Regions from separate parts of the Homo sapiens genome. Here region 1 is linked to region 2. The links come from fine-mapping of genetic effects on gene expression. A gene starts in region 2. The other region holds a variant in brackets. All regions are shown on one strand. Distances are between the middles of the regions.

The links.
Region 1: its variant is fine-mapped to the expression of SFTA3 in thyroid (GTEx, PIP above 0.99).

Annotation. Positions count from the first base shown.
Region 1 is chr14:36,472,640-36,481,492 of GRCh38, reverse strand. SFTA3 (surfactant associated 3) reads left to right here. Exons shown (of 5, transcript NR_161365.1): 3 at 3,615-3,777; 4 at 4,390-4,522; 5 at 7,612-8,205. Among named protein-coding and RNA genes, the nearest start is that of NKX2-1-AS1, 42 kb to the left of the region's middle. The variant G/A (reference allele first, on the strand shown) is at 4,416.
Region 2 is chr14:36,514,366-36,523,218 of GRCh38, reverse strand. SFTA3 (surfactant associated 3) reads left to right here and starts at 3,663. Exons shown (of 5, transcript NR_161365.1): 1 at 3,663-3,751. NKX2-1 (NK2 homeobox 1) reads left to right here and starts at 2,987. Exons shown (of 3, transcript NM_001079668.3): 1 at 2,987-3,166; 2 at 3,849-4,234; 3 at 5,199-6,822. The coding sequence starts at 3,090. The coding sequence ends at 5,941. NKX2-1-AS1 (NKX2-1 antisense RNA 1) reads right to left here and starts at 3,941. Exons shown (of 2, transcript NR_103710.1): 1 at 3,540-3,941; 2 at 203-1,575. RefSeq lists enhancers at 572-1,571, 1,572-2,571, 2,572-3,571, 4,730-5,728, 7,951-8,578.

The DNA of each region.
Region 1 (8,853 bases), 42 kb after region 2:
TGCAGATGCCCACTCATCCAACTTGGGTTGGACCAATAGTTAATAGACTCATCCAAAAAGTCAGTAAAGTGGAGAGTCATTAAAAATGTTATCTACGTGCCTTAAATGTTCTATTTCAATTTAAAGCAGATTAGAGGTTGTCAGGAGACAGGGGAGCAGCGGAATGAGGAGTGGTTACTTAAGAGTACAGGGCGTTTTTCTGGGGTGATGAACAAGTTTTGAAACTAGACAGAGTTGATAGTGGCACAGCATCATGAATGCACTAAATGCCATTGACTTGTATACTTTCAAATGGTTAATTGTATGTTATATGAATTTCACTTCAATAAAAATATAAATGTATATTATTTTGCCAGTTTTTTGATGCAAGGCTAAGGACTTTTCCTTAAATATATGTCCAATAATTGAAGTCCCAGGTCATCTTTCTGATTTAAACCACATCCATAATACATACACATGTTTTACTTCTATTTTAATTTCTTTAAATTGGAGCAAGAACTTAGATACTGACAAATCTATGTCAGAGTAGAATCTGTTTAGATTTTTAATGATTTCTTTCCATTTACAACTTTATATCCATTAAAGCAACTTTTAGAAGCTTACATTTATGTCTTTGTACATTATAAAAACAACTTTCTGTACTTATATTTTATTAATTTACATAAGATTTCCTCAAATAACATAGCTATAACAATAAGTAAAATTGTTATAAAAGAACTTAGACCAAACACATCTGACACTTGGTAGGCATACAATGCAATTCAACTGGTGAGAGCAGTAGTAAGATGAGTGTATAGACAGCAGCTTATCAGCTTTGAGCATTGGGGAGGGCAGGGCTGTAGTCAGTGTGCTTTACAAAGGAAATTATGTGTATCAAGTAAGCTGGTTAAATAGAGGCCACTTTAAGAGCATTTGTAATACAGTGGATGCCCAGAAGAAGGATACTTAACCCGGACTGGGGGTTGAGGAATGTCTTTCCAGGGGAGGTGACATAAGTTGAGATCTAAAGATGTGGAAGGACTTAGCCAGAAGAAAAGTCAGAAGATCTGTTTCAAGCACTGGAAACAACCAGAGAGAGAAGACAGCACCTACATTGGAGGAACAGCAAGAAGTATTGCTGGAGTGTGGCGTGCAGAAGGGGATGTGTTGAAGATGAAACTTGGAGAGAATCATGTTAACCATGTTAAGAAGTTTAGACTTTATTTTAGGGACAGTGGAAAGCCACGGAAAATTTTTAAGTAGAGGACTGACATAATCAGACTTGTGTTTTAGAAAGATCCCCTGGACTGCATTCCAGGGACCAGAATAGAGATGGTGGTAGGTCAGTGGAGGGGTGAAGGGTAGGAAGTCCAGTGATGGGGCTACCAAGGGAGTGGTGATATGAGCCTAGTACTATAGGGATGGAGAAGAGTACACCTCAGCTCTGAGAGGCAGGTAGGGGGTAGACTGTACAGGGGTTTAGTGGCCAAGTGTATTTGGGGGTGAAGGAAAGAAGGAAGACCAGCTTTGGTGATGGTGTCATTTGCTGAAATAGAGAACATGGAACAAGAGTAGCTTTGGAAAGAAGATGAGGTAAACTTAGAATATATTGAATTTGAGGTCTAATGAAGCTGTGGGATGTCCATTAAGTAGCTAGACATGTAACTCTAAAACTGGATCTCAGAGGTTAAAGTGGCCAAAAAGTCATATAATGTAAGGAATGGAAAGTATCCAATGAGTTTTATCAATGAGGAGGCTCCTGGTAACATTGGTGAAGGCAGCTTTAGAAAGCAGGTAGGCACATGAGCCCAATGGTAATGGGTTGAGGAGCCTGTGGGCATGAGGAAATGACCATGGGTACTTAATCATTTAGAGAATTTGGGCTTTGAAGGGGAGGACAGAGTAGGGTAATTTCCAGAGTAGCTGAAAGAGAAGTAGGGGATGAAGAACATATTTAAGCATTACTAAGATGAGTCAGTAGAAAGGTAAAGACTGCAAATGTAAGGGAGGAAATAATGAGGGGGTTAAATGCAGAAACCCACACTTAGTATAGAACGCTGTTGTGAGGGGATAAGTGAGTAAGCCCATGTAAAGCATTATGCTCTGCCAGGCACGGTGGCCCACGTCTGTAATCCCAACACTTTGGGAGGCCGAGGTGGGAGGATTGCTTGTGCTCAGGAGTTCAAGACCAGCCTGGGCAACATGGCAAAACCCTGTCTCTGCAAAAAATACTAAAATTAGCTGGCACGGTGGTTCACGCCTGTAGTCACAGCTACTTGGAAGGCTGAGACATGGGAATCACTTGAGCCCAGGAGGTTGAGGCTGCAGTGAGTGGTGACTGTGCCATTGTTAGTTCCTTTCATTCTCTATGCACTGCCCATCCCGTATTTTGTTTCATCTGTGCCCTGATATAATTACTTTGGCCTGTGCCTTTTTGGCTGCATACCTGTGGTTTTAGATAGTTACTCATGTAATTCTGGATGGGCATCTAGGTTTAGAAACTAGCAGACTGGTTTAATGGCTTGCCTATCCCCTCTTCCCATATATGGCCTCAGCAAATCCCATTTCTCAAATGTGTACTCACAGTTTCACTGTCATGTTTAGCTGCTCAGCAGAGGTGATGGGCTCCTAACCACACCTGAGTCATCTCATGTACTCATTCAGACTTCAAAGTATCTTAGCTTTCCATTCTTTCAACTAAGCCAAGATGGGAGGTTTCTGTTCATTGTGGAAAGAGGCTCTTTTCTCCTTGTAGCCTTACTCCAATGTTTATCTTTAATTATTAACAAGAATTATTAAATGCTTATTTCATTGCTTGCACAGAGTATTCAAAAAACTGAATTTTCCTTTCCTTAGTTCTGCTTGACACATTTCATTTCCTCATTGCTCACCTCTTAGCCATTTTTCTGCCATACAGGCCCTCCTCCTCATGCCCTCTTTTTTTTTTTTAGCATTTCGATACGTTTCTTTCCAATTATTTCTATACTTTGGAAAAATATAATTGAAAAAAATACTGCATGTTTTTTTTTCACTTGCTATTTTAACATAATTATTTTCCTGTTAAAATTATTAACTATAATTTTGATAACTGCTAGATATTTTATCTTACAGCTGTACTAAGCTTCATCTGGCCATTTTCCTATAATTAAGCATCTAGGTGCTCATGTGTTTACACATATATCTTTGTTCACATTGTTTATTATTTCCCTACCTAAGGTTTCTAGAAGTGGGATTACAATGGTAAGCATTTTAAGAGGAATACAAAAGCTAGTTTCACATTAAGAACTAGAAGTGACACTGCTGTTTTCTCACCAGCAGAATACTAACTTTTCAAGTCCCATTCATATTACGACAAAAAAGAATGGCTTCACAAATCTCATTCATTTTATAAGTAGCATCATCTTCATCTTAAAAATATAAGTCATCTAATTGTTTACAGTGTTACACACTGTTCAAAGAACCACATAGCTCTGATTCCTTCCTTCCAAAAATTTACATTCCAAGGAAGATATACTGATGTGAAGACTCACCAAATGCAGACAAGAACTATTAAAAGTACCCCATGGATGGACCTCCAAATGAGTTTAGGGTAATTGCGCTTAAAATATTAGGACCAAAGTACATTTATTTTATAGATGGAGGAGGGGAGGAGACGAGTGGGGACCAGCTTGACATCCAGTCTTCACCTGGACATATGGAAAGAACAAATGTGCGATCTGCTCGTTCCCTCTGAAGGTCTCTGTTACGTATTTCCTCCTCTCCTCCAGAGCATAATAACCAATGACTGCTCTCAGAAAGGTACTGTGACCACCACTTGCTTGGCTCTCCAACTTCCTCCCCCATTTCCCTCTTGACTCCTGTTTGCCATAACACCTTCTGTCCCCTAGCCTTGCCTCAGGTCCCCGACGAATCCTGCCCTTAATCTGTGGGGGTGGTAGGTGGCACTGGTTTGAAGAGCTTACTGGATCTCCCTCAGTGAGTCAGCCTGGAGTTGTGTTTGAAAACCACAGGCCCTGACTGTGGCTGTCAGACCTCCCAGACACCACCTGCTGCTGCCTATCATCATCTTCAGGTGCTGGGCTCCCCTGTGGGCCTCGTCTGCCCGCCCTCTGCTGCAGCTGTCCCATGGGCGCCCGCCCTCTCTGACACCACAAGAGAGCCCATCTAGATTCCAGGAAAAAACTCATCTTTATTTGCCTTCTTCCCACTGAAGGTAAAAGCAACATTAATAACCACAACAAATACTTAGTGAGTGCTTACTATTATTCATTTAATTGTTGGCCCTTCCATCCCTGGCCATGATGAGAGACATGCCATAGCTTACTCCTAAAGAGACCTGAGGACACACGTGCACAAACATATTGGGCATATCATCAATGGCATCAAAACTGATTTTCCCTGTCTACCCAGAACAGGCCTGAGGGAGAGGGAAAAGC[G/A]GATACCCACCTGTGTCGCTGTTTGCGTGCCAAGTCCAGGAACAGTCCATACAGCCCTGCTGCATCCCACGACGCTGTCACAAAGCAGGAGTTCATCCGAGGCCAAGGTGTTGTCATGAGAATATTCGTTAAAGTAGGGACGCTGACTTTGTTCTTGGGCAGATTCTCTTCCTGTGGAGTATCCAGCCTGTTTGCCTAGTTTTCCTGTTCTTCTGGGGTCTGATCTCTATCTGTTTTACTGCAGTCCAGTTACCAAAGTGGTATAAGTAAAATTGAAAGAATTCTAAATACCTTTTCCCCCCACGTTAGCTGCCTCACGTTAATGTGGTCTTACGGTCTGCAAATAAGTGTTTTGATGATTTGGCGACTGCAGTTACCCATACTAGCTCTCCTACCACTCACTACTGACAGTTAATTATTATCGAATATCCACCCACCCAGGGTGAGTTATAAGTTATACCAGGTGTTTTGGTTAATAATACTAATGCAATTAATTTACTGTTTACTCTCTCATCTTAAAGTAATCAGCTGGTAAAATAAGATTGATTGGGTTGGCCAGGTGCGGTGGCTCACGCCTGTAATCCCAGCACTTTGGGAGGCTGAGGTGGGCGGATCACGATATCAGGAGATCGAGACCATCCTGGCTAACACAGTGAAACCCTGTCTCTACTAAAAATCCAAAAAAAAAAAAAAAAAAAAAAAAAATTAGCCAGGCATGGTGGCGGGTGCCTGTAGTCCCAGCTACTCAGGAAGCTGAGGCAGGAGAATGGCATGAACCCGGGAGGTGGAGCTTGCAATGAGTCGAGATCGCGTCACTGCACTCTAGCCTGGGTAACAGACCAAGACTCTGTCTCAATAAAAAAAAAAAAAAAAAAAAAAAAAAAAAAAAAGATGGATTAAATTGGTACTTAAATTTTTTTTCTTTGCGAGGCTTTTCCCTTATTCATATTAAATTTAAACTGTTTTTCAAATTTATTTTACTATTCATATTTCCTGTGCATGAATCATATAATCATGTCCTTTGCCCATTTATCCATTGGGAATATTATTAGTGTTCACATGCATGTTTGAATAAATTTTCATATACTTGGTGCTGATAATTCTATTTTTCATGTGTGTTGATTTTTTTGGTTTTTATTGCTAGTTATTTCTATTACTTACAAGTTAAAAATTTATGTAATTATATTTGACCATTTTATTTCATTTCTAATTTCTCCATTTGCTCCAATTGTAAGAAAATTATCACTTTAAAGTGAGACTAAAAGCCCTATATATTCTTTTAGGTCTCTATTTCCCACCATCCCTGAGATTTTACTCTGACATTCTCTGGGCCTTACAGCCCAGGCCCTATAATTATTCAACACATTATTTTCACAAAGGTTAGATGCTTGCATTATGACTTCAATTGAGCAGTTACCTTAGAGTCTACTACCTACCTATTTATCCTGTATTTACAACTATTTCCCATGTTTTCTGTTGTCCAAGGGGCTTACAACATTCAAACCCAACTTCACTCATTCACTTACTCATTTACTTATTCACTCACTCACACTTTCATTTATTCATTCATTTACTATATTTGGCACACAAACTCTAGGGTGACCACCAGGGATCCTTGCTTCCTGGTGTGTTCACTTGTGTGTAGGCAGGACCTGGGACTTGCTTCTAACCAACAGAATACGGCAAAAGTGGTGGGATGTTCTTCCTGTTATTGTGTTACATAATATAAGACGCTGTCTTGCTAGTAGACTCACTCCAGACACTCTCCTTGTTGGCTTGATGAAGTAAGCAGTCATGTTGAGGAAGCTCTCATGGTGAGGAACCTTGGGCAAACTCTAGCCAGCAGTCAGAAAGAAGCCTGGATACTTGGTTTTAGAGCAGCATGGAAATGAATTCTGCCAATAACCTGAGTGAGCTTAAAAGGGGTTTCTTCCTCAGTCAAATCTCCAGATGAGAACACTGTCCAGGTGTCACCTTGATTACAGTGTTGTGAGACTCTAAGCAGAGGGCCCATCTAAGCCATGCCCTTACCTAGAAACTGTAAGATAATAAGTAGTTGTTGTTTAGAGCCACAAAGTATGCAGTAATTTGTTACGCAGAAATAGAAAACAAATACACGGTGCTGTGCTAATGATCACATGCATGATCTCTTAGTGCTTCAAGTAACGTCATAAGCCCGATACTAATATTATCTTCATTTACAGATGGAGAAACTGAGGCCCAGAAATTGATGTCCAGAATGCTTTGCTCTTAGCCACTGTACTATTATGGCATATTTTATCTTTATGTATTGCATCATTTCATGGATTCAAGTTTATCAATGTCCTTTGACAAGTTTAAAAATCTGTCTGCTAAAATCTATCCAATACATTAAGGAAAAGTCCCACTTGGCACATCTCCCACACCAGGTAGATGTTTTATAAGTTCAACTCCATAAAGACATTTCATGAAACTGTTTTATGCTGTACTTATACCATACATCTTGTAGAAATAATATTAGATTAATGAATAGGAAAGGTTTTTCTTAAAAGTGATGGACTGGCTGGGCGTGGTGGCTCACGCCTGTAATCCCAGCACTATGCGAGGCCAAGGGGGCCAGATCACGAAGTCAGGAGTTCGAGACTAGCCTGACCAACATGGTGGAACCCTGTCTCTACTAAAAATACAAAAAATTAGCTGGACATGGTGGTGCAGACCTGTAATCCCAGCTATTCAGGAGGCTGAGGCAGGAGAATCGCTTGAACCTGGCAGTCAGAGGTTGCAGTGAGCCAAGATGGTGCCACTGCTGTACTCCAGCCTGGATGACAGAGGAGAGAGAATCTGTTCTAAAAAAAAAAAAAAAAAAAAAAAAGTGATGGATTATGAACTATTTAGAAGAAAGAATAATCATGGCAGACATGAGTCCTAAATGCTTTGAATTTATCTGGAATTAGAACATTCAGAAAAACATTAGTTAAAATGTGCTGCCGCTTGGATTCTGTCTTTAACTTTGCTGTACGACTAAAACATTTAATTTGTGTCTTAATGTTAACATTTCTGATCAAGTACAGGGAAAAACATAATATAGAGAGATTTAGAAATACTTTTGTTTAATTGCTAAAGTCCTATTTGGTTCATTGTTCTGAGGAGTTAAGGTGGAATTGTGATCCCAGTACCATGTCTTCTAATAAAAGCCATTTTTGTTCTGCATTTTCAGATGTTAATTATTCATACTGCATGACTGAGGATTTTGGAGGCAGAGAGAGATTCATCTGCAATATTTGGAACACCAATGGAGGTCTACGTCAACACAGAATTTATACAGCAGCTGGTGCTAGTCAGAGCTAATGACAGAATTTCAGTTTAATAAAAAGACCCCCAACTGAGCACACCATCTTGAAAAAAGTATACTTATCAAACAGCTTTCAATCAGTTCAAGAGAGACACCTTAATTGGGGAGAGGAAGAATTGCAGAGTAGTTTGTAATCATGCCAATTCCAGATCAATAACTGCATGTCTGTTCTTTGGTAGAAATAGCTTTTGCTTTATATTAAGTAATCACATATATATTCTCTCTATTTGGATAAGGAAACCTTCGCTTTATTTGACAATGTATAATGATATACTCTTCTAATTCACCTCTGTGTCTTCACAATAAACATGAGTAAAATTTAGACAAGTGATGGTAAAGGTCAATATAATTATTTATTTTTAAAATAAATTTTGTATCTAACAGGAAAGCAGTTCTTATGAAATTTTTATATTTTCAAAAATTGTTTTGTTCAAATAAAATTTTATGAGTAAAGTTAAATGATGGTGGTTTAATTATAAGAAGAGTATACTGAACACTGATAATCTGATTTGTATGCAATTACTTCGGGGAAGGCTGTACAGAATAATCTAAAAAGAAACAAAAAGAAGGCAATTTACTTTTTGAAGGAAGGATTTGGAATACTAAAGAAGAATATGATTCAGTCATCAAGTCTTAGTTTCCTTTTGTTAAAAGGAGACAGTCATTCAAACTGGTGGCTTTCAACCTGTTCGTAGGCTACTAGTCTTAGTGGTGCCTTACAGGGCACTATAGGGCAGGCAGGGCAGGTGGAGAGGGCAGTGAGGGGAGTATGGCCCAATAGAGAGGTCGAGGCAAAGCCTGCAGGGGAGGGCTCTGCAGTTCCCTTTCTCACATCAACAAGGGCATATCTTTTCTTTTTTCCTGCCTGCCTTTTTCCCCCCTTCCTTCCCTCCCTCCAAACTGTATCTATTTACATAGACATACATTTTTGAATGGAAATATTGGGCCTCTATATAAAATTTCTTTTTGCAAAATAGGGTTCCTCTGCTAAAATACAGTTTGAAAATCACTGGACTAGACAATTCTAAGTTTTTTTCTTTCTATGTTTCAATTACTGTTAGGATTTCAAGATCCAGGAACAACACAGCAAGGGAGATTGAAAATCTT
Region 2 (8,853 bases):
CGCCCCCTCGGATTCCTGGCGGAGCCGCAGCCAGCGAAGCAGAGCGTGGTCGGAATAGAGGCAGCGACCGTGTGAGGTCGCGCCAGGGAAAGCTCCGCGAGGGGCCAGCGTTGGGCCCTGCCCTGCCCTGACCGCTCCCCACTGTGCCCACTCCACCCGGGAGCAAGCTAGTTGCGGGATAAAGGAATACGCGCAGACTTCGCAAAGTGCAATCGGGGTTCTTCGTATTCATGGAAAAAAAAATCACTGGTTTAGCCCGGGTCTGCCCTATTTAGGATGAGTCCAGGAGGCGGCGGAAAGAAAGGACGCTCTTCGGTCAGAGGGAGGTGTTTCGGGCCATGGGAGGGACTCTGGAGGCCTTTGCTTGGATAAGCTTGGAGATACAGATGTCCTTCTCTTCCCTACAAGGTGCGTTAGTCTCCGGGCTTATTTTCGGCAGTGCAGTGGTACTGGGGAAGAAGGCAGAGCCGCGTGTTGAGAAGGGGCTAGGGTAGTAGAGGCGCTGGAGCCTGGGCGGCAGGGCGCTGCAAAGGCCCAGGCGAGGTGGATAGAGAGCTTGCTGGTGCGCGCGAGAAGCACGCCTGCAGGCAGAGGTTGAAGCGCCGTCCCAGTTGTGTCCCAGAGTGAAGCGGGAGTCTTTGCCCGCCCCAGCCACTTCGAGCTCCACTCCAGTTCAGCTCCCAGAGTCGCCACTTGCTGCGCGGTTGTTGGGGAGGGGGTTCCTGGTCCAGAACGAGACGTGGGGGGCTGGGGGTTTCCTCGAGAACTGCAGGCCTGGTTGCCCCCGGACTGTCAGAGCCGGAGGCCGGGGAGCTGCCAGCCACGTGCGCCTGTGGCCTGCTGAGAGGTTGAAAAGCTGCCAAGGGACGAAGGCCGAGAAGACAGGACCTAGGGGCTGTGGAAGATTCACCCAACTCTTCCTTTTACTCAGGTCTTGGGACCTAAGAGGGGGTGGGGATAGTCATGATAATAACTACCGCAATCTCCAGTGCTGGCACTGAGCTGAAAAACATTCAAAGCTTTCAAAGCATTTTGATGTGCTTCATCTTACTTGAATCTCACAAAAACCTTGTGAAGATTGATCTCCATTTCTAAATGGCGTTGAGACTGGAAGAGATGTACAACATTCTACACTTGGTGTTCCTTAAACTTACAAACAACTATGAAATAATGGCGAGTGAGAGAAAGAAGCTGGGTGACTGGGAAACCCACCCCGCCTTCGCAATTAGACCCCATTCGGGACTCAGGCCCGGCCAGGTCGCGCCTGCAGACAAGGTCTGTATTCAGCGTTGCCAGTTCTCCTCTGTGGTTCGCTTAAGCCCGGCGTCGCCTCCCCTCCTTGCTTAGCCACCACAGTGATCAATGCTCAGTTCGTCGGGGCCTGAGAGCGCCCCCCAGAGAAGCCCCTGGGAAGGAAGGGCAAGGAGCCGGGCTTCGCTCTGGTCTTTCGCAACACCAGCGGCGAGCGCGTCTCCCTGCGCAAACGTAGGGTGGCCTCCCCAGCTCTGCCGTGGGGACCGCACAAAAACGCGGGCGCAGGTGGGAGGGCGGAGGGTGTCCTGAGCTTTCTTTACCCTGGTAAAGAAGGTAGGCGGTGAGAAAAGCGAATGTTATTATAGAAGTTGGCTTTGTATTGAGGGAGTAAGAGCTCTCTTCAAGGAGAGGGCTGAAATCTTTAAAAATAAATAAAACTTTCTCTACTGTAATTGCTATTAATAAAAAAAGGGAGCCCGGATGAATTAAGTAGCTCAAAACTGCCTGTTCGTCATGATCAGGAGCTCCTTCTCTACAAGGAGGGGAAAGAAAATGTGAAAACAAAAACTAAATTCAAGAAGCTCCTTGACCAGCGCGGGTGTCTTGGAGGCACCTGCCGGGGCCGGCCGGGGAGCGCTCCGCCCTCCCAGCCCCTGGCGCGCAGAGGAGACTAAAACAGCTAAGGAGAAAGCAAAACAAAAACAATGATAAAAACGTTTAAAATCCAAGGACAAAAACCGGAGTCGGTCTCAAAATCCGCGCCGTTCAGTGCTCCACTCGGTAGTCGACTCGGCTGCAGGCCCCGGCCTGGCCGGAGCAACGCGGGGGACACCCCCGATTCCGCTGGGGAGCGCAGCCCACAGCTCCCCCTCGCCAGGCGCCCAAGGACCCTCAAGGCGCGGGGCCCACACTTGAAGCCTGGGAACGCGCAGACAGGAAACCCTCTTCCTCCTAAGCAGTTTCTTGCTCGTCGGATGAGAGGCGCCCAATTGAAGCAGAATGATCCTCATCTACTAATATCCAGCGTGGCCACAAAGCGACTGGCCATTTACGCCACCACTTTAAACAAAGATATTTGGTTATTCCCGGGAAGCAAGAGCACTTTTGCATGGCTGAGCTGCGGGCGGAGGCGAGCCTCGGCCCAGCCTCCCGCCCGCTGAGCTGCCCGCACCTCGGCATTCGCCCCCTCCTGGCCAGCGCTCCAGCCGCCGGGGTTCAGGCTCAGTTCCGCCCGGCAACAGACAGACGGGCACTCACGCCGCTCCCTGCTCGCGCGCTCCCTGAAGCATCAGAGGGGAAAACAGCGTGGCTCTGGGCTCGGGTGCTGGGGCTGTGATGTCCTCGGAAAGTCAGCTCCAGCCCCAGATCCCCGCGTGTCTGGGAGATGGGCGAGGGTCAGGGACACCAGGTTTGTTCGAGGTGGGGCAACTTCAGTGACGGACCCTCCCGTGAGACCCCTTCCCATCCTCCCAGCTCTGGGGGCCAGTGCTGTGTTTGCTCGGCCGGGGGTGGGGGGGGGGGGGGAAGACCTTGGGGGAGGCGTGTTAGCGGGGGTGGCCCACTGAAAAACCCCTGAGCTGCGGGGGCGGGTTGTGGCTCGGGGATCCGGGACAGCCTCCGGGAGGCAGTCGATCCCCTACTCAGCGCCCCCTCCGCCCGCTCGGATTCTCTCCGGTAGGGGGAAAGGGGGCGGGGAGCAGAGGTGTCCCTCTGACGGCGGCAGAAGAGAGGCAGACAGACTGACAGACACGTAGACCAACAGTGCGGCCCCAGGGTTCGTCCCCAGACTCGCTCGCTCATTTGTTGGCGACTGGGGCTCAGCGCAGCGAAGCCCGATGTGGTCCGGAGGCAGTGGGAAGGCGCGGGGCTGGGAGGCCGCGGCGGGAGGGAGGAGCAGCCCCGGCAGGCTCAGGTGAAACCCCCACCCTGTCCCTCAGCCCCCTCCTCCTAAAGACCTGTCCGTGCCCGGGGAACCCCGACCGAATTGGAAAGTGGTTCCACTTTGTAACTCCGCAAGTTGGTTGCAAAGCAGCATTCACCTTCCTTCCTCTCAACCATCTCTCCTCCTCTGTTACTCCCCCACCCCACCTCCTGCCCTCCCCGCTCTCGGTTCCCTCCTCCTTCCCCTCCCCTCCACCTCCTCCCCGCGCTCCGCTGGTACCCCACAAAAAATGGGGGTGGGGGTGTCCAAGGGAGGGGGGAAATGCTTTGGGTCTCGTCTCTGCCTCTCTCTCTCTCTCTTTGAGACCTAAAAATCCTGACAAGTGAAACTTAAAGGTGTTTACCTTGTCATCAGCATGTAAGCTAATTATCTCGGGCAAGATGTAGGCTTCTATTGTCTTGTTGCTTTAGCGCTTACGCCCCGCCTCTGGTGGCTGCCTAAAACCTGGCGCCGGGCTAAAACAAACGCGAGGCAGCCCCCGAGCCTCCACTCAAGCCAATTAAGGAGGACTCGGTCCACTCCGTTACGTGTACATCCAACAAGATCGGCGTTAAGGTAACACCAGAATATTTGGCAAAGGGAGAAAAAAAAAGCAGCGAGGCTTCGCCTTCCCCCTCTCCCTTTTTTTTCCTCCTCTTCCTTCCTCCTCCAGCCGCCGCCGAATCATGTCGATGAGTCCAAAGCACACGACTCCGTTCTCAGTGTCTGACATCTTGAGTCCCCTGGAGGAAAGCTACAAGAAAGTGGGCATGGAGGGCGGCGGCCTCGGGGCTCCGCTGGCGGCGTACAGGCAGGGCCAGGCGGCACCGCCAACAGCGGCCATGCAGCAGCACGCCGTGGGGCACCACGGCGCCGTCACCGCCGCCTACCACATGACGGCGGCGGGGGTGCCCCAGCTCTCGCACTCCGCCGTGGGGGGCTACTGCAACGGCAACCTGGGCAACATGAGCGAGCTGCCGCCGTACCAGGACACCATGAGGAACAGCGCCTCTGGCCCCGGATGGTACGGCGCCAACCCAGACCCGCGCTTCCCCGCCAGTAAGTGAGGCCGCCCCACTGCGGGGCCGCGGGCTGAGCTCAGGAGGTGCGGCGAGAGCCGTCCAGAAGGCGCGGCGCCGGCAGGCTGCGCGCTGGGCATCAGGGAGGGCGGCCCGGCAGCGGCGCCAGGGACTTGGGTGCGGGAGCTGGGGATGCTTCCCCCTGCTCGGCTGGGGGTCCAAGAACAGGCACTTGGTAGCGCTGGGGTCCTGCGGTCAGATGCGGGTACTCGGCGTCTCCTAGGCGCGGTGGACTGGCAGCTCTGCTCGGCGCAGAAGACCTCGGGGAGCCAAGGGAAGCGACCCCGAGCTCAAGGAGCAGGGGCGAGCAGAGCGCGGAGAGGCTAGACCGGGCCAGGAGGGAGGCTGCCCTGTTGGGAGGCACTCGAGCGCCCGGCCCGGCCCTCTCTCCAGCGGAGTCTGGGCAGGTGGGAGGACTCGCAGTTCCAGAGGGGACTCTAAGGGTCCGAGCAGGTGCCCTCACTGGGGCCTGACAGGAGAGAAGCCAAGAGGCAAAGCGTCTGGGGGCTCCAGCTTTTGGAAGTCAACACCCCCTCTCCTAACCTCTCCAAACTGGGGTCTACCGTAGGACCCCAGCTCCCGGCCTGAGCCCAGTTCGCCGCCTGTGGCCAGCTAATCCTAATGCTCTGACCCGGGCTGGGCACGAAAGGAGCAGAAGCGGCCTTTCCCCCACTGCGTCTTTTGGTTCGAAAGAGGGAACTGAGACTGAGGGAGGGCAGCCAGGGTTGGGGCTGTGAGCGCTCCAGTACAGCCCCCTCGACGGTACGGCCTGGGGCAGGCGCTGGCAGTTCCCCGCGGATGGGCCTCTTGGGCCCCAGCGCTAGGCTGCCTGGGTCAGGAGGGCGCCGTCGGTTGGGGCGGGCCGGGCGGGCCAATGGCGCGGAAAACAGGGGTGGCCTGGCTCGGCCTGGCCCCGGCCGACGCTGTGCGTTTGTCGCTTACAGTCTCCCGCTTCATGGGCCCGGCGAGCGGCATGAACATGAGCGGCATGGGCGGCCTGGGCTCGCTGGGGGACGTGAGCAAGAACATGGCCCCGCTGCCAAGCGCGCCGCGCAGGAAGCGCCGGGTGCTCTTCTCGCAGGCGCAGGTGTACGAGCTGGAGCGACGCTTCAAGCAACAGAAGTACCTGTCGGCGCCGGAGCGCGAGCACCTGGCCAGCATGATCCACCTGACGCCCACGCAGGTCAAGATCTGGTTCCAGAACCACCGCTACAAAATGAAGCGCCAGGCCAAGGACAAGGCGGCGCAGCAGCAACTGCAGCAGGACAGCGGCGGCGGCGGGGGCGGCGGGGGCACCGGGTGCCCGCAGCAGCAACAGGCTCAGCAGCAGTCGCCGCGACGCGTGGCGGTGCCGGTCCTGGTGAAAGACGGCAAACCGTGCCAGGCGGGTGCCCCCGCGCCGGGCGCCGCCAGCCTACAAGGCCACGCGCAGCAGCAGGCGCAGCACCAGGCGCAGGCCGCGCAGGCGGCGGCAGCGGCCATCTCCGTGGGCAGCGGTGGCGCCGGCCTTGGCGCACACCCGGGCCACCAGCCAGGCAGCGCAGGCCAGTCTCCGGACCTGGCGCACCACGCCGCCAGCCCCGCGGCGCTGCAGGGCCAGGTATCCAGCCTGTCCCACCTGAACTCCTCGGGCTCGGACTACGGCACCATGTCCTGCTCCACCTTGCTATACGGTCGGACCTGGTGAGAGGACGCCGGGCCGGCCCTAGCCCAGCGCTCTGCCTCACCGCTTCCCTCCTGCCCGCCACACAGACCACCATCCACCGCTGCTCCACGCGCTTCGACTTTTCTTAACAACCTGGCCGCGTTTAGACCAAGGAACAAAAAAACCACAAAGGCCAAACTGCTGGACGTCTTTCTTTTTTTCCCCCCCTAAAATTTGTGGGTTTTTTTTTTTAAAAAAAGAAAATGAAAAACAACCAAGCGCATCCAATCTCAAGGAATCTTTAAGCAGAGAAGGGCATAAAACAGCTTTGGGGTGTCTTTTTTTGGTGATTCAAATGGGTTTTCCACGCTAGGGCGGGGCACAGATTGGAGAGGGCTCTGTGCTGACATGGCTCTGGACTCTAAAGACCAAACTTCACTCTGGGCACACTCTGCCAGCAAAGAGGACTCGCTTGTAAATACCAGGATTTTTTTTTTTTTTTGAAGGGAGGACGGGAGCTGGGGAGAGGAAAGAGTCTTCAACATAACCCACTTGTCACTGACACAAAGGAAGTGCCCCCTCCCCGGCACCCTCTGGCCGCCTAGGCTCAGCGGCGACCGCCCTCCGCGAAAATAGTTTGTTTAATGTGAACTTGTAGCTGTAAAACGCTGTCAAAAGTTGGACTAAATGCCTAGTTTTTAGTAATCTGTACATTTTGTTGTAAAAAGAAAAACCACTCCCAGTCCCCAGCCCTTCACATTTTTTATGGGCATTGACAAATCTGTGTATATTATTTGGCAGTTTGGTATTTGCGGCGTCAGTCTTTTTCTGTTGTAACTTATGTAGATATTTGGCTTAAATATAGTTCCTAAGAAGCTTCTAATAAATTATACAAATTAAAAAGATTCTTTTTCTGATTAAAACCCTCCTTTTTGTTTTGTTTTGATTTGGCTTTAAATGGCTTTGAGGGGCGGGGGCTTGGGAGGATCTTGTCTTTGGTCTGATGAGATTCAAATTGTTTGGGTTTGAGCTCAAAGGATTCTGAACCGGTTAAGGAGGTAAGGAGGCCAGGCCCAGAGTCCTTGCCCCACAGGAAGAGGGAGTTTTGTTCTGCCTCAGAAATTGTGTGGAAACAAATCTTGAGCAGTCCTGAGACTGCAGTGGAGGACCGAAATACCAAACTACTTCCACCAAGAGGGAGAGGGAGAGAGGAAGAGAAAGAGACCAAATAATTCATTTTCTGAGTCAGACTTCTGTTGATAGGAGTCTCAGAACTGTCTACTGTGGTCTCACAAAGCTGAGCCAAAGTTTTAAAACAGTGAGAGAGGACACCCATTTTAAATCAGTCTGAGTGAGTTATGGTTTTCAGTGAATGGATCACCTCTGTAGATTTGAACATCAAACCTTTATTTCTAATCAGTGGCTGAGCTCCTTCACAGAATTCGATGGGAGGCTGTTTTCGAAAGTAAGGAAGTCATTCAGGGGTTTTGTTTCTGTCCTAAAACAGGGACCCCTCTAGGGGACCAGCAGCAGACGCCTTCAGCCCCTGCTGCTTTTGGCTCCTTTGGCCTCCAACGGGGTAACACTGGGTGACAGGCCTGAGGACATCCCAGGAAGGACTTTGGGAGCTGAGATTTCACTCTTTGTTGTACTGGGTTTTATCTCTGGGATCCTAAATTTTTGTAGTAATGAATCTTTCTCCTGTTTACAGTTCTTCACCTCCCAGCCACTACCTCCCACGCCAAGCAAAAAAAATAAATAAATAATAAATCATTTTTGATTCCTTTCTTCCAACCTCTAATTTCCTGGTTTCCTCAGCGCTCAGTGTTTGTGTTGGGAGACCCATTAGGGATGAGAGAGAGGGGAGAAGGAATGGTTTTGAACACAGAAAAATTGTAGTCCCCTGGATGGGCTGTAGCCCTTCCGGGTCACCCTTGCCAAATCTCCGGTCGAAAGGCAGCTGAGCCAGCTGCGGGCAGACGCCCCTCCCAGCACTTTCCTCTAGGCCTGGAAGTATTGGATTATGGGCAATTGATTCTTATTTGGCATGTACTCACTTCTCGCCCAGGTTTTCAACTTTCTTTTTCTTCCTCTCTTCCCCTCTCTCATTTCGTTATTCGTCTGCATCTCTTCCCAATCCCTCTCTCCCGCTCCCCCACCAAGAGCTTGTGAGGAAAGCAGACTGGCCGGAGTCCTCGCTCCGGGCCCAGCAGTCCTCTTTGTTAACTTCCTGGAGCCTCCTCTGGCGTGGTGCCTTAAGACTGTGGGCTAGGCCGGGCTTTCTCCCTCAGAAACCTGGGCCTCACTGCTGAGACACAGTTTCCAACAGCCAGAGGGACTCGAAGATTCCCAAGAGGATGGTTGGGTCTAGTGAGAGTGCTTGTTGGAAGGCGGGGAAGGGAGATTTTAACAGGTCTCACGTTTTGGAAAACAAACAAATTTGACCACTTGCGTTGGAATGGTCAGCTGTGGTTCCGGGACCGGGAGTGTAGGTGGCTAAGGCACCCAGCTCAGGCCGGCCGGGCAGGGGACATGGATACTGCAGCTGCTGTTTGGCTCTAGGTCCGGATCCCACGGAATTGGAGCTTCGCTTAACCTGCCCCAGCCTAGCCCAAGCCCGGGCGGGGACCTGGCTGGCGGTGCCCGGCTGTGGTTCTGGCGGCTGCCCCGCACCCCATTCTAGCTGGGAGGAAGCCTTTGGGAGTCACAATTTTAGTAGGCTGTGGCACCCTCGGCCTTATCATCTTTGCATTGGATGGAGTTTCCATCAAATACATTCTTCTCCTCGCCGTCTACAGTCGGCATAGTTTGAAGTCTGTTTACTTGTCCCGGGGAAAGGTGAACTCAATCGGGTTTGCGGACCGAGACAAACAGGACCTCAGCCTCTTTCTTGCCATCAATTACGCTGGCTCCATCCGCTCCCGCTCCCGGCTGGGGGAATTGTCGCAGCTGCG